Linked DNA regions of Homo sapiens. The protein of the gene in region 1 interacts with the protein of each later gene in a biochemical or structural test. Each region holds a gene or a part of one and is shown in the gene's direction. Other genes may lie near its edges. The genes, in order: ABCC4, SYNPO2L, GRID2IP, RIMS2, PALS1, PATJ and PPP1R9A.

Region 1 (3,500 bases):
GTGGGAATTTAAGATGAGATTTGGGTGGGGACACAGCCAAACATTATCAGGCCCTTTCCTTAGTCTTTCTTGCCTTCCTTTAACCTGTGCTTTGCTTTCCCTCCCCATCCCTTTCACTGCAAACTCTTTCTTTCTGAAACAGTTTGATCACAGATCTGATCCTTACGTGGCCAGCTCCTTGCCTGGGTGAGCAGCTGCTGCAACCTTAATGAGCCCCAGGCCCACCCTGACAGGACCTGTCTGGCTCTCAGCCCCCAAGGGAAGACCCAGATCCCATGACCCCATCAGTGCTCAGAAATCAGACCCCCAAGCTGGAGGCAGTAAAGGCACCAGAGACTCACTCAAAGTCAGTGAAAGGAAAACAAGGAGGGACTTGGGAGGCTGTGTGGAGTTTTGTGAGCTGGTTTTGCAGGTATCTAAGTCTGCCAGCAATGTCCCTTTCACATGTGTCCTGGGGCCCTTGGCTAGGACTAGGACAGCCTCTTGAAGGAACTAAACCAGAACAAACAAGACAGTAGAATCTCTTCCCCTTCCCACCCCTCTCCTCACAACTCCCAATATGGACACACATCCCCTGCACTCAGGGTGCCCTCCTTCTCCCCAAGCACCTGTCTGCCTTGCTCTTAGTGTGCACCCTTTTCAGTCAGTTCAAGCATCTCTGCCTCTTTGAAACTATATTCTCCACATCATCTTATAGATTCTTTTTTCGAGACAGAGTCTTGCTCTGTCGCCCAGGCTGGAGTGCAATGTCACATTCCCGGCACACTGCAACCTCCACCTCCCAGGTTCAAGCGATTTTCCTGCTTCAACCTCCCCCGTAGCTGGGATTATAGGTGTGCACCACCATACCCAACTCATTTTTGAATTTTTAGTAGAGACCAGGTTTTGCCATGTTGGCCATGGCTGGTCTCGAACTCCTGAGCTAAAGTGATCCGCCCACCTTAACCTCCCAAATCATGCCTGGGATTACAGGCATGAGCCACCATGCCTGGCCAGATTCTTTAATGTAACATCTGTGGCCCACCCGTGTTCATAACAGCATTATTTGCAGTGAGCAGTAGGTGGAAGCAGCCCAAGTGTCCATTGACTGAGGAATGGAAAAACAAAATGTGATACGCACGCATAATGGAATATTATCCAGACTTAAAAAGAAGGTGATTCTGACACATGCTGACATGTGTGATTCTGACATGGATGAGCCCTGAGGACATTATGCTGAGTGAATTAGGCCAGACACCTAAGGACGGTGCTATAAGGTTCCACTTACATGTGGGTACCTGGAGTAGTTAGTCATGGAGACAGAAAGTAGGATGGTGGGCGGCAGGGGTAGGGGAATGGGCATTAGTGTTTAATGGGTACAGAGTTTCAGTTTTACAAGATAAATGGAGTTTTAGAGATGGATGATGGTGACGGTTGCCCAACAACATGAATGTATTTAATATAATTGAACTGAACATTTTCAAGTGATTACAATGATCAATTTTATGTTACTTTACCACAATTTGAAAAGTACATAAAGTACCTTTTGTGTATTTTACCACAATTTTTTTTTAAAGAAGATAGCACGATGGCATGATTTATAATTCTGGGTCAGCATCTCACAGTACCCTGAGCCTCTTAAAGTCAGGGAGCATTTTATATTCGTCTCTGTACCCCCAGAAAATGGCATGCTGCAGGGCACATGGTGGGTGCCTGTGAGAGTGAGGGATATGCACATACAAAGAAATCGGTAACAAAACACACACGACAGCTCCCGCAACAGCCCGTTCTCTGGGTGTCAGTGTTAGATACTTTCGGAACTGCTCTTTTCAGCTCTTCCCACCACAGACCCATTTAATGGGCTATAGTCACAATTGAATGAATGATACCCTTGTGCCATGAAAAATAAATATACAGCTTCATGCCCAGAAGATACCCAGGGAACCAGCAAAAGCTGATTCCTCATTATCTACCCAGCATCCTTGTGAGTGTGAAGAAGGTGGAGACCACTCTGCAGGCAGCATCAGCTGTAGCTCTTGCTGAAAGCAAGGTTTCTCAGATTCTGTTCCTGATGGGGCCAGGGGGATGTTTGCTTACTCTCAGACAATGTGTTATTAGGTCCTACCTGATCAACATCATTCTGTTAGTTTGGCCACGTTGTAAATTTCTCTTGTAGCCATAAAATATGAATTATCTACAAACCTCTGTTGTACACATTAGAAAACAACCTATATCCCCACATTGATATCGTTCCATCTTAAAACCCCCCCAAATCATAGGATTACCTGAGATCTGAAATGTGGGAGGGTAAATTGAATTTGAAGACTGAATTATAGCTACAACCACTTGGCTTTTGAGACAGAGTCTCGCTGTGTCATCTAGGCTGGAGTGCAGTGGCGCAATCTTGGCTCATTCTGCCTCTCAGGTTCAAGCGATTCTCCTGCCTCAGCCTCCCGAGTAGCTGCAATTACAGGCACCCGCTGCCATGCCTGGCTAATTTTTGTATATTTAGTGGATCCGGGGTTTCACCATGTTGGTCAGGCTGGTCTTGAACCCCGACCTCAAGCAATCCACCTGCCTCGACCTCCCAAAGTGCTGGGATTACAGGCATGAGCCACTGCGCTGAGCCCCACTTGGCTTTTGATTTGTGTCCTGGTTCACTCACAGTGTCACCTTTAGCTTCATTTGTGTATTCAGGCAACATCGTGGTGAGTTGGTTCCACTTTTTGTGTGTATATTCAGGGTTCGTCTCCTCCACACCTGCCTGCAGCCCCAGGATCTCAGGCAGTCCCTTTGCTGTTGGAGCTGATGGAGAGGGGCATTGTTTCCAGTGGAGATGTAGGAATGTGTCCACACAGCAGAAACAGGGCTTCATTCTCTTTCAATTGCTTCATCTGCTCAGATTTCCTGGACATTATAACAAATAGGAAAAAGTAATAGGCGCTAAGTAGGTTTCTAATTCACAGAAGAAATAGCAAGTAAAAAAGAATGAACCAAAATGAGGTATATACCACCCTAGCCTTCCTGGTTAGATTCCAAACACTGGCTGCATTTTTCATTTAGATGGTTTTGTGGTTGATTTAATCATTTTAGAGAGTACTGGGCCATTTTAAAGCATTTTTCAGCTCTAGAGGTAGATTGATTTTGGTTTGTTATTTTTTTTTCCTTGCTCAAAGCTATTACTTGGATAATACCTTTTTACAGATGTGTACTAGACCTTGCTATAGTGTGCAAAAATATTAGTTTCTTATATTCTCTCCTTTTTTACATTAATGTTTGCTGAGAAACCCCTCCTCTCACAGCCAGATTGTCCCACTTGCCCTGCCTGCTTGCTCATCTCAGGGGCTGGGATCAGCATCACCTGCCTCTGCTTGGAAACATGTTAGAAATGCAGACTGTCAGGCCCACCCCACCCTTTTGATTAAAATTGCACTGGGACAAGAACCACCCCCACTCCTGCCCCTGCATTAAAGCCGTTGCTCTCCGGTAAGCAATTTTGGATGACTAATAATCTGTGATTT
Region 2 (3,500 bases), on another chromosome or scaffold:
TGGGGACAGGAGGGGTAATGAGTAGAAGGGGAGCATAATTATTCTCATGGCCACCATTATTTTTGCTGTTTGAACCAATGTGGCAAAAGGGTAAGGTGATTCAGTTCAACCCAGGAACAGGGTAAGTAGGGAAATTGGAAAGGGACACAAATAGATGAAGGGTTTGGTGGTGGTGATAATTGTTATTGTGTGTCATGATTGGGTGAAAGCAGAGTACAGACACAGGACAGGGGAGTATTTAAAAGCAGGTTGAAGGCGGGGCAAGGTGGCTCATACCTGTAATCCAAGCACTTTGGGAGGCTGAGGTGGGAGGATAGCATGAACGCAGGATTTTTGTTTTGTTTTGTTTTTTGTTTTTTTGAGATGGAGTTTGGCTCTTGTGCCTAGGCTGGAATGCAATGGCGTGATCTTGGCTCATTGCAACCTCCGCCTCCCGGGTTCAAGCGATTCTCCAGCCTCTGCCTCCCGAGTAGCTGGGATTATAGGCACCCGCCACCACACCTGGCTAATTTTTTGTATTTTTAGTAGAGATGGGGTTTCACCATACTGGTCAGGCTGGTCTCGAACTCCTGACCTCAGGTGATATGCCTACCTCGGCCTCCCAAAGTGCTGGGATTACAGGCGTGAGCCACCATGCCCGGCAGAAGCCAGGAGTTTGAGACCAGCCTGGACAACATCGTGAGACTTCGTCTCCAGTAAAAATTTTAAAATTAGCCAAACACTGTGGCACATGTCTATGGTCCCAGCTACTTGGGAGGCTGAGGCAAGAGGATTGCTTGAGCCTGAGAGGTTTGGGCTGCAGTGAGCCATGTTTGCGCCACTGCACTCCAGCGTGAGCAACAGACCAAGACCCTGTCTTAAAAATAAATAAATAAATAAATAATAAAAATTAATAAATAAAAGTGGGTCAAAGCTACAGGGGTTCTTTTTTTTTTCTGGTTTTTTTTTTTTTTTTTTTTTTTTGAGATAGAGTCTTGCACTGTCACCCGGGCTGGAGTGCAATCTTGGTTCACTGCACCCTCCACCTCCTGGGTTCAAGCAATTCTCCTGCCTCAGCCTCCCGAGTAGCTGGGATTACAGGTGCCCGCCACTACACCTGGCTAATTTTTTGTATTTTTAGTAGAGACGGCGTTTCACTATGTTGGCCAGGCTGGTCTCGAACTCCTGACCTTGTGATCCACCCGCCTCGGCCTCCCAAAGTGCTGGGATTGCAGGCGTGAGCCATTGGCCAAAGGATTCTTTATAGTATTAATAGCAGGCACCTTTGACATTTGCAAGTTCAGTTCGGATTCCTGGGGACTGAGAGGCTATGGGATGATCATGAGATCCCGAGGAAGTGGCAGAGGGAGGGAGCTTTGGCTCCTTATCTCAGGCAAGAATGTTGGCCTGGGCAGAAAAAGCCCATTCCACTTATCTCAGGCTTTGCTATTTTTGATGTGAGCTACAGAACAAGGTCTAAGGGTAAACGTTCTCCCTGCTCTATGCCTCCCGTGCTTTCCCACAGAGACCGTTCTTGTTACCTCCAAAATCTCATGATTCCCCCTCTAGTTATATTTCTTCCCTCTCCTCCACCATTTTGATTCCTGATCTATAGAACTTTGTGTCTCTCAGTTTGGAGTGGAGGCTAAGGACATGAGAGTTGAGAGTCTGACATCCCTGAGTGTCCAATATCCCAGGAATTCCAGATGCGTGCCTAGGATCCTATGCTTTCCTCAATTCTCCACTTATCTCCCCCTCCCTTCCCATAATGCTGGATGAGACTGTAGCTACTGGCTCAGAGATATTTTTAGTCAAGCAGACCTCATTGTCTACTGGGGTGGGGTTGGGGGAAGGGAAGGCAGGTGCCCACATCCATCACACCGGCACTTGTGGGGCAGCCCAGAGAAGGGAGAGGGCCAGGCTCCAAAAATAGCACAGTGAGCTCATTCAGCTGCCAGCTCTGGGGACAAGACAAAGGGGCTTTAAAAGGCGTGGGGGGTGGCTCAAGCTGGTCCTGCTCCAGCCAACACCGCCTTTCTCAGCATGGAGACCTTTGAGCCCATCAGCCAAGAGCCCCTCAGCCAAGCCAGCTATGACAAAGCCCCAGACCCAGTTCCTGAGCTCCAAGACTCGTTCTATGCAGGTACTACCCTCCCATATCTATGAGAGTCTGGGGTCTAGAATGGAGGGGAAGATGTCAATAGTTTAGGAAGGGTAGTCTTTGGGAAAGGTCTTACTCTCTTGTTCCTTTTTGCTGTCCTCTTCCTCCTTTTCTCAGGAGAGTTTCACTGCCCCTTTCTCAGTGATGCTGTGGTCACATGTCAAAGGGGTTTCTGACCACAAGAGCTGTAGAAAACTCATGGGAACAGAGCGTGTGTGAGTACATTATGAATACATGAAGGCATGTATGTGTGAGTCATGGGAGAAGATATGTGTGAACAAGAAAGTATCCATATATATCAAGAAAGTATAGTGTCAAGAAGACTTCAATAGTAATGGTTATAGTGGGCCTTCACACTGTGTTAAGTGCTAAATTTACTATATTATCTCAGTTAATCCTTATAGCAATCCTATGAGGTAGCCATTGTCTACCCTCATTTACAGATGAGGAAACCGAACTTTAATGAGGTGAGGTAACTATCCCAGAAACCAAAAACCTGAACTGAACTCTGACTCTAGGGCCTGTTGTCTCATCCATACCACTATTCTGTGGTATAAACACTGGGATGAGAGGAATGACAAAAATGAAAAAGTTCCATCTACTTTCCACTCAAGATACCACGCTCATTACAAAGGAGCTCATTACAAAGCTCATTACAAAGGAGCTCATTACAAAGGAGCATGGTACCTTGAGTGGAAAGTAGATGGAATCTCAATAATTTTTCAGGAGGAACTGGGGACCATGGACCAGAGAGTATCCATGTGCAAGGCGGGGTCCTCGCAGCAGGGTAGCCCTCCCATTTCCTGGCCCCACCTACCCAGGCCCCACATGGCATGGAAAGCCCTGCCCTGGTTCCCTTTAGCACATAGTCTTTGTGTGCCTGGCTGGCAGTGGCTGCCTGAGCTCTCTACGTAGAGACAGTTCTGACCCCTGAAGAAGCCCACCCCACTACCATCCCCAGCTTGGGGTAAATAATATATTTAGCTGGCGACCTTGAGGTATCCTAAAGATTTGGAGTGTTGCCTTGGAGAACAACACTCTAACTTTTCCTGCATCTTGGATGGAGACTACCCCTGACTGTGAGTAGCAGGGGTGTGAAGCCCAGAGGACTGCCCTGGCAGTTGGAAGGCCGAGATCAACTTTAACTTCTGTCTAAACTGTTAGTAACAGGGTCTCTGCAGGGAGGTCTCTGGGAAGAAGGGCCACCTAGAGCATGTAGGTGTGTGAATGTATTTGAGTGATGGTGTTTTGATGTGCACACATGTGTATTTACATAAGTGTATGTGAATGGAGCTGTATGTAAGCTGGGGTATATGTGAATGAGAGAGAAAAGTAAATAGGAGAAAGTACGCCTACAGTT
Region 3 (3,500 bases), on another chromosome or scaffold:
CATCACTTGAGCTCAGGAGCTCAAGATTAGCCTGGGCAACATAGCAAGAGCCTGTCTCTACCAAAAAAAAAAAAAGTTTTAATTTAGCCAGGTGTGATGCACACCTGTAGTCCCGGCTACTTAGGAGGCTGAGGTGGGAAGATGGCTTGAGTGCAGGAGATCAAGGCTGCAGTGAGCTATGATCAAGCTACTGCCTCCAGAAAAAAAAAAAGGAAAGAAAAAAAGAAAAAAGAAAGAAACTCACGTGGTTGCCAGACATGCCAACACCACCACCAGGATCATGAGCACACGACCACATCCCACCTGGCTGGTGGGCTCCCAGTGTACTCTTTCTTGCACACACACAGGCCTGCAGTGCCATGTGTGGCTGCCACCTGTCTGTTCAGCGTGCCCTCCGAATGCCCACAAACCCCTGCACTCAGCATGCAGGTCATGTGGATGGAAGGTGTGCCGAAGCCTGTGTTCTACCCTGTTCTAGGCATCCTGCACCTGCTATGAAAGCCGCTGCAGGTGCAGTGGTTCACTCTTGTAATCCCAGCACTTTGGTAGGCTGAGGTGGGTGGATCACTTGAGGTCAGGAGTTCCAAGTCCAGCTTGGGCAACACAACAAGACCCCCATATATTCAAAATATTTAAAAATCAGCCAGGGGTGGCCGTGCGCGGTGACTCACGTCTGTAATCCCAGCACTTTGTGGAGCTGAGGCAGGCCAATCACGTGAGGTCAGGAGTTCGAGACAAGCCTGGCCAACATGGGGAAACCTCATCTGTACTAAAAATACAAAAATAAGCCAGGTGTGGTGGTACGCAGTTGTAATTCCAACTACTCGGGAGGCTGAGGCAGGAGAATTGCTTGAACCTGGGAGACGGAGGTTGCAGTGAGCTGAGATCGCACCACTACACTCCAACCTGGGCAACACGGTGAGACTCCATCTCAAAGAAAAAAAAAATAAAAAATTAGCCAGGCGTGGTGGTATGCACCTGTAGTCCCAGCTACTTGGGAGGATGAGGTGGGAGGAGCACTTGAGCTCAGGAGTTGGAGACCAGCCTGGGCAACATAGCAAAAAAATTTGAAATTAGCTGGGTGTGGTGGCACACACCTGTAATCCCAGCTGCAGGGGAGGCTCAGGCAGGAGGATCTGTTGAGCCTGGGATTCAAGGCTGCACTGAGCCTTGATTGCACTCCAGCCTGGGGGACAGAGTGAGACCTGTCACAAAAAAAAAAAAAAAAAAGAAGAAAAGAAAAAAAGGCAGGTGTGGTGGCTCACATCTGTAATCCCAGCACTTTCAGAGGCTGAGGCAGGTGGATCACCTGAGGTTAGGAGTTGAAGACCAGCCTGTCCAATATGGTGAAACCCCATCTCTGCTTAAAAAAAAAAAATACAAAAATTTAGCCAGGCATGGTGGTGCATGCCTGTGGTCCCAGCTACTTGGGAAGCTGAGGCTCGAGAATCATTTGAACCTGGGAGGTGGAGGTTGCAGTGAGCTGAGATTGTGCCACTGCACTCCAACCTGGATGAGAAAGCCAGACTCTGAATAAATAAAGAGAGAAAGAGAGAAAGAGACAGAGAGAGAGAAAAGAGAGAAAGAGAGAAAGTGAGAGAAGGAAGAGAAGGAAGGAAAGGAAAGGAAGGAAAGGGAAGGGGCCGCTGCAGAGTTGCTGGTCCTTGTGTGCCCATGAGCTGCAGTCCCAGGGACCCACAATTTGCTAGGGTTTTAGCGAGAAGCTCAGGATCCATGCTGGACCACACATGCCTTACATATCTGCGTAGGCTCAAAAAACTTCTATTTTGGCCGGGAGCAGTGGCTCACACCTGTAATCCCAGCACTTTGGGAGGCCGAGGCAGGCGGATCACCTGAGGTCAGGAACTTGAGACCAGCCTAGCCCACATGTTGAAACCATATCTCTACTAAAAATACAAAAATTAGCCAGGCATGGTGACGGACACCTGTAATCCCAGCTACTTGGGAGGCTGAGGCAGGAGAATCGCTTGAACCTGGGAGGTGGAGGTTGCAGTGAGCTGAGATTGCACCACTGCACTCCCACCTGGGCAACAAGAGCAAAACTCAGTCTCAAAAAAAAAACACTTCTATTTTGCCCATAATCCTCTCTGGGCAGCAGTGACTTGGCCTGGGGCAAGCACAGGGCGTTGAGACTCTGGAAGCTGTTGTCATGAGATCTCTGCTAGGCCCCTGAGTTCAGGCTAGCTGCATTCTGGTGCTGCATTCTGGTGCTGCTCCTGGCACCTGGTTTCTTGCCCTGGGGCTTCCCCTCAAGAGCTGTTCTGGAGGCAAGCAGGGCAGGCCCCGTAGCTTGGGGTCTGCATATTGGTGCAGATGACATCTGCCCTCCCCTCCCTGTTTTGGAGGTCCCTTGTCTGGCTGAGAGGGCAAGAGGGCCCCATGTTCCCTGCATGTCCCACAGCAGAGCCGGAGCCTGAGCTGGACCTGGAGTCCGAGCCCACGCCTGAGCCCCAGCCGCGGAGCTCCCTGCGGGCTTCCTCCATGTGCCGCCGCAGCCTCCGGTCCCAGGGCCTGGAGGCCGGCCTCAGCTGCGGTAAGGCTGGTGTCAGGGGGAGGGTATGAATGGAGCTCAGTTTTCCCACCTGCAAAATGGGCTTGGTGAGGTGGGGAATCCCAGGGAATGGGGCTAAGCAGGGCTCAGGATTGGCCCTCCTGGGTCTGCGGGGCATGTTGGTTCTGGGCCGGGGCCTGAGCCGTAGAGCTCAGATACGGTAATGACATTATTCCCCGGTAGGTCCCAGCGAGTGCCCTGAGATGCCTCTTCCCCTGATCCCAGGCGAGCGCCAGGCAGGCGACGGCACGTCCCTCCCTGAGACCCCCAACCCCAAGATGGTGAGACCTTCTCTGCCCTCCACGTGGGGTCAGTAGGGGGCAGGGAATGGACGGTCCATAGGACTGGGCCCAGGAGACCCAGGCCAAGGCGTCCCTGTGCTGCTTCAGGCTGGGGCATATCCCTGCCTCCCGGCCCACCCAGGCCTGGACCACATTAGGGCTACGAGGGGAAGCAGAATGGGCTGGACTCTCCCCCGTCTCCCTCCAGATGTCAGCCGTCTATGCAGAGCTTGAGTCTCGACTGAACAGCAGCTTCAAAGGGAAGATGGGGACCGTGTCCAAATCCCGGGCTTCCCCTCCAGGCCCCAGCCCAGCAGTCACCACAGGTAGGGCTCCAGCCTCTGTCATCTACTGTCTGGGTGTTTCCCTCCACCCCAGGCTCAGCCCTGGAGCTGCTTCTCTGCTCCATCAGGGTCAGGGTTGTCCCAGTCCCTCCCATGGCCCTGTGACCCTCACCTCAGCTGTGGATCAAGAAAGTAGCCTGGGTACCGTGGGTCGTGCCTGTAATCCCAGCACTTTGGGAGGCCGAGGCAGGAGGATCAATGGAGCCCAGGAGTTTGAGACCAGCCTGGCAACATAGTGAGGCCCCATCTCTAACAAAAAAAATACAAAATTAGCTGGGCATGGTTGCATATGCCTGTAGTCCC
Region 4 (3,500 bases), on another chromosome or scaffold:
ATTGAGCTTAGAATGCTGATCTTCACATCGCCCCTCAAATACACTTAAGCTTTGTATGATTGCCGGTTTCTCATCCTTCTGGCTTAGCTTCAAATTTGGATCTTTAGAGAGCTCTTTTCTGACCACTCTTTCTTATGTAGATTCTCTCCATTATTCTTTATAACAATACCTTTTATATTTCCCCAATTATGCTTATCAAAATTTATAATGATTTATTTACTTGTTTATGGTCTGTCCACTCTGCTAGATTATCAACTCAAAGAGAGCACACACCATGTCTGTTTTGTTCACTAATGCAGCTTCAACTTCTAATGTAATACAATGCCTTACACATAGTAGTACTCAAAAATATTAATCGGGTGAATGAACGCACATTGGGAATGAAATATTATGTTCATCTAGGTGGTACAAACTTTCAAGGTGAACTCCAATAATCTTAAAAAAAGATTTGCTTATGTAGTAGTGTCCTTATTTTTGAAATCAAATGTAATTTTTAAACATGCCTAATTTTGCTTATTTTACATGGAAGGAAACTTACAGTGTTTGTGTATGATTGCAGCTTATCTTTCTTTTGGACTAAGAGCATATCTTTTTTGACTAGAAACTAGAAGAACATTGTGATAGATATCATTTTTAAATTTAAGGAATATTAGGAATTAGGGAAAATTTGGCTGTAAAAGTGATCCTTTAAGAGAATTGATACATTTCCATTGTGTTTAGCACAGATGAGTGATAAAGAGTACACAGAAGGCTTTGGATAGAAATAGTTCATGCCCTCCAGGGACAGATAATCTAAGGCCAACCATAATCATATGAACACATAAAAATGTAAAGTGTCATGAAAAAATACTGTAAAGGTGTTTTTAGTACATTATAACCATGGTAAAAAATATGTCAGACTAATCTTACTAGTAGTTTATTGCCTCTATGGTATTGTTTGATTATATTGTGTTATATTACATGGTGTCACATAGTTTTTCCTGTTAAAATATCTGAAAGTTTCACTGCTAGATATTAAAAACTTTTGTATTCTCTAGTCACCTAATGAAATACAGATATCTCTGGGAGTTGAAATAATTTTAACCATTATCAGGTAATTCTTAAGGAGCTCATTGTAAGAAACGTGATAAACCACATGAAAATTTTGCATGGTAAGTACCAGGAGACTACTGTGCACTACAGTGTATCATGGATATATTTTACAAGAGGAGCACGTGATTCAGTCCTGGGAAGATGCCATCTAGGCTGAATCTCAAATGATGAGTAGATGTTAGCTGGGCAGATTGTTCTCTAAGCAAAAATCTTAAAACTCCCAATTCCTCTTTGCCCCCAAAACCTTTCATTTGTTAAAAAAAAAAAAAAAAAAGAAGACGATGCAGGACATGGTCAAGAAGTTTGCTTGAAGTGGTTCAGAAGAGCACAGATTTAAATGGTGATGCGTCAATAGAGGAGACTGGAGAGATGGCAAGGTTCAGAGCCTAAAAAGCCTTCTATGCTATTCTTTGGATTTGGCAATAGGGAGTCATGGAGGGATTTTAAGCAGTGACACAATATAATTAGACTTCTGTTGGAACAAAAACCACTCTCATTTAATAGATTGGTTAGAAGGTGTAATACTAGAGATAAAGGCACTATTTAGGAGATTCTTACAGTAATCCAGGTAATAAATGATGAAGACATGAAATAAGGCAGTAGAGGTGGAGGTGGAGAGTCAAGACAAATTTTTGAAAAATTGAGGAGCCAAAATTGCCAGGATTTGACAGCTGTGTGTTAAGGGTCAGGTAAACTCTTATGATGCCAGACTTGCGTAACTGACTACTGTACATAATATATATCTGCCTGTATCTGCTTATCTCACTTATAGTTAGCTCTGTGAAGTCATCTGGTCCTAGGACCAGTGTTCTCTTGAGGGAGCAGTTGTGAAGTGGCTTATTTTATTGTTTTAGTTATTCTAGAGAGTTTGTAGCATTAATATGAGTAATAGAAGTGACTATAACTTGGTATAATGGGATGGTAGTAAAAAGGACCAAAAGGGACAAAGAAGAAAAGAAAGGACAAAGAACAAAGGGGAGAAAGTAAGATTAGGGCTCTTGGAATCCATTCATAATTAGAAGGAACCCTTCTTAATAGCTTATAAAATTTTTTCTACTGGGTATATTCACACCATGTAATCTTTTCAGAACTTCAGGACTATCATCCTTTTACTGAATATTCCCTACTCCCATTGATAACTTAGTCTCAATGAATTTCTCACCCTCTGGTTTTATTTCATTCTTTGTGTATTTTAAACTATCACACAATCTTTGTTTTATATGTTAGGCTTAGCAAGGACAAATTTCCTTCCCTGTATATATTTCTGTATCACCTCTAAGGGAATTTTGGAAATATGAGTGTATTTTAGGAAAATATAGAGAGGAGATTAGTTATGGAAATGACATGTGGAAGTTGGTGAAGATTCTGTGCATCTTTATATTAGCTTACTGAATTATTGCAGAATTTCAGAAAGTGCTTGTATTATAAAAGGGAGATAAATTTTATTGGGTTTTGTGATGGGAAGCTCCAGAAATAGGAATTGAGGTAGAGTTATGGAAAGGGGAAAGTTAAGAAAAGGTTTACACAGGAGTAATATATTATTTTACCTACTTTCTTTCTAATACGGGTAACCTACAAAATTGAAGACAACTAGATAGTATAAATTAATTGGTCAAGAACTAACAACTTTAATACAGTTTATATATTATGAACACATATCTATATTATATATACCTGTCAAAACTCTTACTTTTTGTACAATATAGTGCTAGCTAAATGCTTTTTAAGGCATTTGGAATTAACAACTTTTGTATAGTTACATGGTTATAAACATTTAGTATTTTTATATAATACAAATACTTTGATAGGTTCTGCTAAACAGAGGAACTGGATAAATGCTCCTTTAAGGCACAGGAGGAATGCCCTTTAGCATTTTTTTCTTCCAATCAAGCTTATGTTCAGCTCGAAGAGACAAATAGTTTGGTAGTTTCTTGTATCCTGTAACTAGGCTTCTGGGAGGCTAAAACTAGGGGAAAAGGATACACTAAACAATATAACTGGGTAGCAGAATAACCACAATGGTGTTTGGTGCTTTGGTATTGTTCAGTTGACAGATGGAGGTGGTGCTCACATTCATCTTGTTTTGTTGGCATATTTGGTATCTGTTATCATTTTTATAATAGTTTGCTTCCCAGGCACATAGATGAAAATCTGTTTTATCACACATAAAACAGTCTTCAATCTGAAAGAATTAATTAATACTTCTATTAGCACACTTATTTTTCTCACTGGGCCAAAATCTAGGTGTAGGTAGGGCCGCATTTCTTTCTAGAAACTAAAGGAGGATTGTTTCCTTGCTCATTTGGGTTGTTGAAAGAATTACGTTCTTTAAGTTATAGGACCGAGATTCTTGTTGGCTATTCAGCTGAGGGCTGTTCTTACCTCCTAGAGGCCTCTTTCTGGTACTT
Region 5 (3,500 bases), on another chromosome or scaffold:
TTAGCTGTAGGTCATTTTGTGCATTCTGTTAAGGAGGTTAAGGAGGTTTTCTTCTGTTCCTAGGTTACTGAGGGTTTGTTTTTTAAATCATGAATAGATGTTGAATTTTATCATATGCCTTTTCTGCATGTATTGAGATGATTGTGTGAACTTTTTTCTTTAATCTGTTAATATGGTGAATTACACTGATTTTTCAAATGTTGAACCATATTTGCATGTTTCTGGGACTAACTCTGGGGTTATTTTAAACAAAAATCATTTTGGATTTTTAAAAACTAATATACATTAACATTTATTCTTAAAAATGAAGGAGCAATGTCACATGCCTGTAGCCCCAGCCAATTGGGAGGCTGAGGTGGGAGGGTCGCTTGAGCCCAGGAGTTTGAGTCCAGCTGAGCAACATAACAAGATCTCTTTTCTTAAAAAAAAAAGGAAACCAAATATAAGATTTTGTGAACTAAAATACTTAATGAAGTCAGTAGAGTCAAGGTATTCATTAACAGTTACCTACCTACATTTTACATTTTAGTAGGACTTAAATTTTCTTGATTATGATATAACATTATAAAAATTAAAACATTTGGCTTTCTGTCTCATATAATTTTATAGTTTCTTCTTCAGTTAATAGTCTCAAACACCCTCAAAGACGTTGAAATTTTGAGGCCTCCAGGGTTCTTGGCATTTTGCTTCTTTAAGGCAGGGGTCAACAACTTTCGGTAAGTATTTTAGCTTCGTGGGCCATATTGTCTCTGTTGCAAGTACTCAGTTCTGTTGTTAGAGTGGCAGAGGTAGCCAAACAAATGAGCATGACTTTTCCAATAAAACTTTACTTATAAAAATAAGGTGTGCCTGATTTGACCTCTGGACTTAGTTTACATACCAACATTTTTATTTTATTTTTTTGAGATAGAGATGGGGTCTCACTGTGTTGCTCAGGCTGGTCTCGAACTCCATGACCCAAGTGATCCTCCCAAGTTGGCCTCCTAAAGTGCTGGGATTACAGGCATGAGCCACCACGCCTGGCCTACATACCAATTTTTTTTTTTGAGACCAAGTCTCACTCTGTCCCCCAGGCTGGAGTGCAATGGCATGATCTCAGCTCACTGCAACCTCTGCCTCCCGGGTTCAAGTTATTTTCCCTCCTCAGCCTCCCGAGTAGCTGGGATTACAGGCACCCGCCATCATGCCTGGCTAATTTTTGTATTTTTGTGGAGATGGGGCTTCACCATATTGGCCAGGCTGGTCTTGAACTCCTGACCTCAGGTGATTTGCACGTCTCGGCCTCCCAAAGTGCTGGGATTACAGGCGTGGGCCACCATGCTTGGCCTCATACCAATGTTTTAAGGCAAAAAATCAGCAGGAGAAATGACAGTAATTGTAGTAATGTAGTAAAAGGAAGCTTGGGGTATTTATTTCATGCTGTAATTCTAGGCCAAGCCTCACTTTTCTCACCTATGACATGTAGCCACCTTGAAAGATGATTGAAAAATTCAAGCTGAGATATGGAAAGCACCTAGCAAAATATCTGACACATAGCAGATACTTAATAAATATTCACTTATTCACTTTTTGTTTCAAGACTGCACAGTGCTTTGTCACAAACCAACAGATGTGAAATAATTAAGGAGAGTCAGGTTTTTACAGTTTGTAGTATATCTAATAAGTTCAAATATTAGAAATTTTAATTATGTGTCTATAGTTATCTTTTGAGTTATGCTTTTTTGATATAAATCATAATTGGCTTCACAATTTGAGAAACTTCACACAAAAAGTTGAGGATTTTGTGTGAAAACATTATATTTTGAGAGTTTTACATTGTCACAGAAAAGGTTTGAGAATGTAACTTAAAATACATTATTTTGTTTTGATGTAAGAAGTAGGCAATCTGTATTTTGCTTGTGTGTTTTAGAAGTGCCTTTAAGACTGCATTCGTTTAACGTGATTGCTTCCTATGAATGTAGTGAGCTAGGTGCTCTGCTAGGACTTGGTTGTACTTAGAGTATCCATATTTAGATACTCATTTTTGTGTTATGTTTGAAATGTAAGTAACGCTTCGGAAAGTCTTTTTTTCTGAGTTTCTATCAAGATAAAGCTGTTCTATTTTGTTTTTTATGAAGCTGGTTGAGATTCACTAGAGCGATTTTATGGCACACAAATGGGTCACATCCTACAACTTGAAAACCATTGATGTAGATAGACGAAAGTAACCCTTCTCCAAGAGGCTGTGTTCATAATTTCATTTAAAATTCAGCCACCCACTCTTCCTTCCTCCAGGAACGTTCCATACCCTCCTACTGGCAATAAGTTTTAGTTCTTAAAATTTTAGTAAAGTATGCATTAACAATTTATTCTTTTTTGTAACTCATCTGTAAATTATCGAGAGCTGTGACTACTGTTTGATGTTCATTTATGCTCAGAAGTACTAGACACTCAAATATTTACTGACCAAAAAAATCTGGAAGAAAATAAGTTATGTGTTAAACAGTGGTTCTTCTGTCTTAGTATTGGAAATCACATTGCCTCACATTGAAAACTGTATAAACTCCAGTTTATGTGTACTGGACATGCAGATTTAACTGTCTAATATTAAACAAAAAATTCTAGTTAAACAGATTGTTTTGTGATTCTGATAGTCATCTGGGCCCTTCCTCTGAAACACACACACTGTTCATACAATATGCAGGGATTCATGGAAATAAAGTCATGAACCCCAGATACAGGTCTCTGATCCAGGTGATTCATCGACTGTATAAATGACCTGCAAATGTTTTTCACAATAATGATTTGCATAAGGGTAATCAGTACATACTTAGAGTTAACGAAAATAAATTTCATAGTTTTTGTAGGCATCCTAAAGGAATCTTATCCTTCTGTTTTTTATACCTTATCCTTTTATACTTAAAATTTATAGCAAGATTGATAGTTCATTTGACCAAATCACAATACTTTCTGCTTTCCCCTCTTATCCAGAATTGTATCCCTCGCTGTGTCTCTTAATGTGTTATGCTGTATGCTGTATCCTTTGTATGTATTTCTTAAATATTAACAACTACATTTCAAGTTCTTTGTCAGCATTCTTCTTTTTACAAATGAGGAAATTGAGGCTCAGAGAGATTAAATATTTTTTCCATAGTCCTATTATAAGTGATAGAAAGGAGTTGAATTAATTTTATTTGATCCCAAAGCCCTTGGCTTTTCTGCTTTGTCTGTAATATAGCCTGCCTTAAGACTTATTTTAACATTGTCTTTTTGGTAAGATTAGAAACTTTTTGATGAAAGCCATTTTCCACTTTACCTAGTGTTTAAAAATGTACGTGAGGCTGGCGCAGTGGCTCATGCCTGAAATCCCAGTATTTTGGAGGCCGAGGCAGGAGGACCGCTTGAGCCCAGGAGTTTGAGACCAACCTGGGCAACACAGTGGGACCCTGTCTCTACAAAAAATACGAAAATTAGCTGGACTTGGTGGTGTGTGCCTGTGGTCCCAGCTACTCAGGAGGCTA
Region 6 (2,968 bases), on another chromosome or scaffold:
CCTGCCTCAGCCTCCCGAGTAGCTGGGATTACAGGCATGCATCACCACACTGGGTTTATTTTTGTTTTTTTAGTAGAGATGGAGCTTCCCCATGTGGGCCAGGCTGGTCTTGAACTTCTGACCTCAGGTGATCTGCCTGCCTTGGCCTCCCAAAGTGCTGGGATTCCAGGCGTGAGCCACTGCGCCCAGCCCAGTATTCTGATTTTAACCAACTGGTTCTGATTATATTTACCAAAACTGGAGTTAACTTCTCTTTCCTTATACTCTTCTCTCCCTATCCCCTACTCACACCGAGGCTTAACAGCAACCTCAGATCTCATCCAATGGACAGAAACAAATGTTAAGCAACTTGTCATCTCACTCATGATTTACTTATGCTAATTGTCTCTTCAAGTAAGCAAGAAAACATTAGCAGTGTAATTAATTTACCAGTGATCCCCAAGATGAAATACCAGATTCTCCTATGGGAAATTACTGTGCTGTCTTCTGTATGACTTATGGTCAAATAAGTCTCAAATTCATTTCTCTGGATAGATCTTTATATGCTAGTCATTGGTGATTTTGATGAGTCAATTTACAGACTGTAATCTTCTAAAAATTCTGAAAGACTAATTGTTTTCTGTGCCATATAAATGCATACCACTGAGCAAATGAACCTTATTCTCAGCAGGAACAACTAGCATACATGTTCTGAATTCTAACAGTGCTAAATTACATTCAAGTCCAGGAAGATCACCTGGAATTAATGGCATTTCAGTTGGCAGGCATCATTCCCACCCCTCGGTCTTAGGAAAAGGAGGTAGAAGCCCCAGAACCACACGGCAGAGATCAGCAAGTTTTGTCTCAAGTCAGACAAGGTCTAGGTGGCCTTGGCCTTATGCAAAGTGGGTGACATATTTGATTATATTTCCCTTTACCTCCATAGTAGTCAGGCCAGCAGCATGGACTGCAAGAACCTAAGGGAGCAACATACTTAGCTGCAAAGTGAGCAAATGAATTGAGCCTAGGAATATGTGATGAAAATGCATGGCTGATGTTTCCTGATCTCCAAGGAGACTCCCATTTGCTGAAGTTTTGCATGCTAAGAAATCAACTACAGCAGAAAATACAAGAATACCTTTAAGTTGATTATTGGCAATCTTATTCATATATTAGCAAGAAAAAGGGAGAGATGCTTACTGGTGGATGCTATAGAGTCCTCTGTTTTTAAAAGTACCATGGCCGGGTGCAGTGGCTCACGCCTGTAATCCCAGCACTTTGGGAGGCCAGGGCAGGCGAATCATGAGGTCAGGAGTTCGAGACCAGCCTGGCCAATATGGTGAAACCCTGTCTCTACTAAAAATACAAAAATTAGCTGGGTGCAGTGGCAGGCGCCTGTAATCCCAGCTACTCCGGAGGTTGAAGCAGGAAAATTGCTTGAACCTGGGAGGTGGAGGTTGCAGTGAGCCAAGTTCGTGCCACTCCACTCCAGCCTGGGTGACAGAGCAAGACTCTGTCTCGAAAAAGAAAAAAAACCATGAAGGATGAGTACTAGAGTCAGTAATAGAAGTAGTTCAGCATTATTTAACTACAACACAATGCTGCAAATATTTCACAGTAATTATCAAAATTTAATGGGCTCTAATTTAAAATGTTATTTAATAAGTATAGATTTTAATTGAGAATTATCTTTGAGTAGATGTAATCACAAAGTGCATTAACTCTTGTTGGAATATTTTATGGCTATTCCAAAGTATAGAGTGCCTAAATTTTGTGTTGAAAATGTCTTTCATGACGGTATTAAGTTTTCTGAAATTACACATGGCTTTTAAAATTTCTAATGTATCCAAGATGTGCAATGTTGTTAGGATCTCATTCTTCAGTGCATGAAAAGCTACTACCCTCAGAACATTTTGTGTTAATTGTACCTGCAAGAACACCTCAGGCAAGCCAAGAAGAAATGAAACCCAAATAAAACTTGAAAATGCACCTTAAAAATATATATACATATAATAGTTTTGAAATGGGATTCTGCTTTATTTTGATGGAATGGCCATTAAATACACATTTTGAGATAATACATTGTTGTGGTGTTTCTTTATACATTATCCTTTTAGGTCGTGCTAGTAAAAGTATATTGATGAAGGAATTATGATGCTTTATACTTCTTACTGCACTAAATTGATAGAACTAGTACTTGTCATAATCGGTTCTGTCTCCGCTCACATGACTAATACGTAATTGCCTTTCCAAAAAGATATTTTTGCCTCAGAACTTACTGACAAGCTGAGAGGCTATGAAGATGGAAATTTGTGAAAGAAGTAGTGCTCTTATATTTGGCCTCATCATTTGGGCCATTTCAGTATAGTAATGATATCACTAATCGGAATTAGCATGAGAGGGAAGTAAGCCAGGAAGAATAAAACTGCTGAATGTTTGTATGTGTAAGATATTTCCAAAGATTCTAAATAAATGTAGTTGCCTACAGAGCAAATGGAGTTTTATTATATATGAAAAAGTGTACTTTCTGGATCTAATTGTGCTTTTTCTTCAGCATTTTCTTCCCTAATAGAAAAAAAAAAAAAGTCCAACTTTTCACAAGGTTTTTTGGTGTCCTGTTAAAATCTGGAATCCATGGTGGCTCACGCCTGTAATCCCAACACGTTAGGAGGCCGAGGCAGATGGATCACCTAGGTCAGGAGTTCAAGACCAGCCTGGCCAACATGGCAAAACCCTGTCTCTACTAAAAATACAAAAATTAGGATGGGCGCAGTGGCTCAGGATCCATGCCGCCATGCCCAGCCAACCTCTAATGTTTCTTTCCTGGCCCTTTCATGCATGTGCAGGTGAGTATTTGACAAAGAGGCGATCTCCATGGCTCTGTCAACCTACAGCTCCCTCCTTTCCAGACACTACATGTTCTAGCCAACTTGGCTGGCCTCCCTGAACGTGAATCTCTTTCTCCTCTACTCGTGGACTCTGTGTGAGT
Region 7 (3,500 bases), on another chromosome or scaffold:
CAGGCACATATCATATGATTTAAAGGTACAAGGCTATCCCAGCCTGGCTGTAGCAGTTTGCTTATGCAGGGTGGAGTAGTTACACACAAAAGTGAGCCAGTAGGTTAAGTATATAGCTTTAGAAGTTAAACATCTTAGATAACTTGCCATATTACTAGGAAACCACAAGAAGTTTGACCAGAGGAATAAAAAGGAAAAGACACCACCAGGTATGGAGAAGCTGAGTTAGGAGACCCTATGAGGTGGTGCCCTCTAAAGAGGAGCAGTAGACAGTGACAGGAAAGAATGATTCAAGGACCCTTGAGACATACCTTGACTAGGTAACAGGTAAGAAAGTGAGGCAAAACTATCATGGGCTTCACGCCTCAGAACATATGGTCTTGTCATTAACAGAAAATAGGAAATCAGCAACATGATGGGGGAAATAGGATTAACTCATTTTTTTAACAGAGGAGGTCATGAGCGCAAGAGAGAGGTCAGGACTGCCAGGTAGATTTGGGAGTCCCCATTATAAAGGAAGAGATAGTCAAGTATCTTATTACAGTGAGATTAAGGAGATGCAGTCCAGTACAAGACCTTAGGATTTGGCCATCAGGAGATCATTTATTATTTGAAAATGAAAACCAGGTTGCCACAGCTTAAAGTTGAGGCACCCAATCTGGGGGCTCAGATGTATAATTGGTCACAAAGGTAGTATTGGAGAGATTTTAAAAAGCCTAACAGAAGTCTTACGTAGAGCTAAATAAACAAAATGTATGTTTCTTTTTTCCTGAAATCATACCAATCTAATGTTGGATTTTATGCAGACTAGAAGTTCTAGTGTGCATTAAAGATGGATTTAATCGATTTTAAATGGGAAAGTACATTATTCCTTATTCTTAACATCTTCAGCCCTATGGAAGCATTCATTTCAGTGTTCCTGGGAACGCACTTTGGCAAATGTGTGAGATAAAGATGTAAGGTTGCCTAGCACCAAGCTCTGTGATAGGCAGAATCAGGCTTTTAGTCGCATGATGTCCAAATAACTGCAACACTCATGGGTTACAGAGTGTTTTCGTGTACATTGCCTCAGCTGGTCTTCTCAGCGCTCATTGTAACATCTCCCAGCTACCTCTCATTCAGGAAATAATTAGGCAGTCTCCTTTTAACTTTGCATAGTCCTAGCCATTAAGAGTTGCTTTAGGATTGATCTGGAAGAATTTGGCACTTTCTTTTCTTCAGCTTCTATTAAGAAAATTTAAATCTTGCTTTTAAAAATAAAATCCATTAGTAAAATCACCTTAGAAGGTGTTTGTGCCATGTCTATGTCTATGGATTTTTTTATATGATTGTGTCACATCTGTGACAATTCAGTTACCCAAAGAGTAATGATGCAAATATGCATAATAAATATTTGAGGCTTGAAGTGGATTTTTGACACAGACATATTTCTGACTCTTGTGTTTCATTATGTACATTTCAGTGAGTTGCTTATTGTAATCTAAGTATCATTAACTAAAAATATGAAAAGCTCATTGCTAAAAACATTTGGAGTATTTGTCAGTGTCCTGTGCTGCTTGAGAGCTTTGAACCTAGACTGCTATCCATGAACTGTGTGTGTACTTCATGTTTTTTAAAGGTGTATGTCGATGTGTGTTGAGAAATTTCTCTTGAAGTAAACAAAAATCATGAGCAACATTAACCTGCAAAGTTAATTGAACACTTTTTTAAGAGGGCCATTCTCTTTGCCTTCCATACTAGAAAGTTCCTAGAAATTTAAAACACATTTTAAAAGATAAGAGACAGAAAAACAGATACCAAAAAAGAACTGGGGAGGAAGAGTTTCACACATAAAAAACATCAAATTTAAAACAGCATTTGTTAATCATCTGAGCTAATTGGATATGCTGAAACGTGATGCCGATCAGTACCCTCTGCTGAATAGTTTGGGTAGAGCCTGTCCGAGATGGAACAAGTGCCACCAGTGGAATTGGTTCCCACCTTGACATTGAACTCCATTTGCAAAGCCTGTCTTCCTATTGGCTTTTGGTATCATTTCGAGGGTCCCCATTCCCCAGCAGCTGCTACCTTTGAGAGTCCTAGAGGCAAAGATCAGTCTGCTCTGAACACTGAGGAGATTTTGGCATCTTCCACATTAAGGGGAACCAGCCAAGTTTTGCTGTAACCTAACTATTAAGAAGGCCCTTTCAAAGATATAAATGTTTTGTAGCTGAGCCCCTGTTTAAGGAGTCTCCCCCATGTCCTCCCCTCCTCTGTTCCAGGACCGGCCACAGGCCATTAGCAAAGGAGAGCCAGAGAAGAAAACTTTGACTCTGACTTTCCCCCTAAATCTCCCAGACTCTCAGAGGTGATATTCTGCGCTGGGCTTTGGAGATACGGGAGAAGTGGGCTATGTTCCTGTTAGAAGGCACTACAACCCCAAGGCAAGAAAGGAATGGAGGACAGAGCCCAGGCACTTGAAGCCAAGAATTTGGAGCCAGAGAAGGAACAAAAGTCATGTTGGTCCCTACTTCGAATGCAGAGGATGATTTGAGAGTATTTATTCTCCCTTGTTCATTCCCATGCAGTTGAAGCTAAAACTCTTTGTGATGAATGTTGAGCCTCTGTCCTATAGAGGACCTCCCCTGCTTAACTGCGAGTTCCTCAATGTAACTGTGTCTCCTAGGTCGTATAAGAAGGCATTGATTATTTATTTTACAATTAGGAATTTAGGCAAAGCCCTTAGATTCAGAGATGCATTGACTTTTGAATTGTGACTTTAAAAATAATAATAATTGATCTTTTTCACAAATGTGTATATCCTAGATGATGCCAAAGATCCCAAATCACTAAGGGCATCCAGTTCATTGGCGGTGCAAGGAGGAAAAATTAAGCGGAAGTTTGTGGATCTGGGGTAAGCACTTCACGATGTAAAAAGAAAGCCCTCTGTAAAAGGAGGATTGAAAGAGAAAATTTCAGCTTCCCCTTTCTGACTGCTTACTATCATTACAGGGCGCCTTTGCGAAGGAATTCCAGCAAGGGAAAGAAGTGGAAAGAAAAAGAAAAAGAAGCCAGTAGGTTTTCTGCAGGTAGCAGGTACGGTTGTGTGATTAAGAACACGTGTATTTCTATACCTAAACTTTCTGGCCCCCTCTTCTATTGTTAACCAAAATCAGTGGTCAGTATCTTTGAGCTAAAGTGATATGCCAAGAATTGAGATGGAAGAAAAATTGCACAATTAGTTTATATTGGTCTTACTCCAATTATAGCCTCCATCTAGCCTTGGGCATATCCATTGGTTCTTAATTGCAGAATTATGGCCACATGAACCATTTCAATAAGTGTTTATCTAAATTCAGCACAAATATATCTATGTGATACTTCAGAAATATCAAATATATTTATGTGATACTTCAGATTTTTTGCCTGGCTACCCACAATGCTAGTGCATTGTATTAAGTCTAAAAGGATAATCATTTTGCATTTAAGTACCTTGTTGACATTCAAGATTGTCTTGTCCA

What was found.
Region 2: the proteins of ABCC4 (region 1) and SYNPO2L interact in a test that uses a peptide from one of them, tested with the Homo sapiens proteins (one large-scale study listed by IntAct).
Region 3: the proteins of ABCC4 (region 1) and GRID2IP interact in a test that uses a peptide from one of them, tested with the Homo sapiens proteins (one large-scale study listed by IntAct).
Region 4: the proteins of ABCC4 (region 1) and RIMS2 interact in a test that uses a peptide from one of them, tested with the Homo sapiens proteins (one large-scale study listed by IntAct).
Region 5: the proteins of ABCC4 (region 1) and PALS1 interact in a test that uses a peptide from one of them, tested with the Homo sapiens proteins (one large-scale study listed by IntAct).
Region 6: the proteins of ABCC4 (region 1) and PATJ interact in a test that uses a peptide from one of them, tested with the Homo sapiens proteins (one large-scale study listed by IntAct).
Region 7: the proteins of ABCC4 (region 1) and PPP1R9A interact in a test that uses a peptide from one of them, tested with the Homo sapiens proteins (one large-scale study listed by IntAct).

What each region holds. Positions count from the first base shown.
Region 1 is NC_000013.11:95,067,452-95,070,951, reverse strand, and holds part of ABCC4 (ATP-binding cassette sub-family C member 4), read left to right. Parts: intron 1-3,500. UniProt on the Homo sapiens protein: ATP-dependent transporter of the ATP-binding cassette (ABC) family that actively extrudes physiological compounds and xenobiotics from cells.
Region 2 is NC_000010.11:73,649,530-73,653,029, reverse strand, and holds part of SYNPO2L (synaptopodin 2-like protein), read left to right. Parts: intron 1-1,989; exon of another isoform or gene 1,990-2,022; coding exon of another isoform or gene 2,023-2,122; intron 2,123-3,500. UniProt on the Homo sapiens protein: Actin-associated protein that may play a role in modulating actin-based shape.
Region 3 is NC_000007.14:6,509,962-6,513,461, reverse strand, and holds part of GRID2IP (delphilin), read left to right. Parts: intron 1-2,422; coding exon 2,423-2,554; intron 2,555-2,755; coding exon 2,756-2,853; intron 2,854-3,061; coding exon 3,062-3,179; intron 3,180-3,309; exon of another isoform or gene 3,310-3,446; intron 3,447-3,500.
Region 4 is NC_000008.11:103,507,110-103,510,609, forward strand, and holds part of RIMS2 (regulating synaptic membrane exocytosis protein 2), read left to right. Parts: intron 1-3,500. UniProt on the Homo sapiens protein: Rab effector involved in exocytosis. May act as scaffold protein. Plays a role in dendrite formation by melanocytes.
Region 5 is NC_000014.9:67,247,935-67,251,434, forward strand, and holds part of PALS1 (protein PALS1), read left to right. Parts: intron 1-3,500. UniProt on the Homo sapiens protein: Plays a role in tight junction biogenesis and in the establishment of cell polarity in epithelial cells.
Region 6 is NC_000001.11:62,161,448-62,164,415, forward strand, and holds the end of PATJ (inaD-like protein), read left to right. Parts: 3' UTR 1-2,468; downstream 2,469-2,968.
Region 7 is NC_000007.14:95,271,094-95,274,593, forward strand, and holds part of PPP1R9A (neurabin-1), read left to right. Parts: intron 1-2,805; coding exon 2,806-2,893; intron 2,894-2,991; coding exon 2,992-3,075; intron 3,076-3,500. UniProt on the Homo sapiens protein: Binds to actin filaments (F-actin) and shows cross-linking activity. Binds along the sides of the F-actin. May be involved in neurite formation. Inhibits protein phosphatase 1-alpha activity.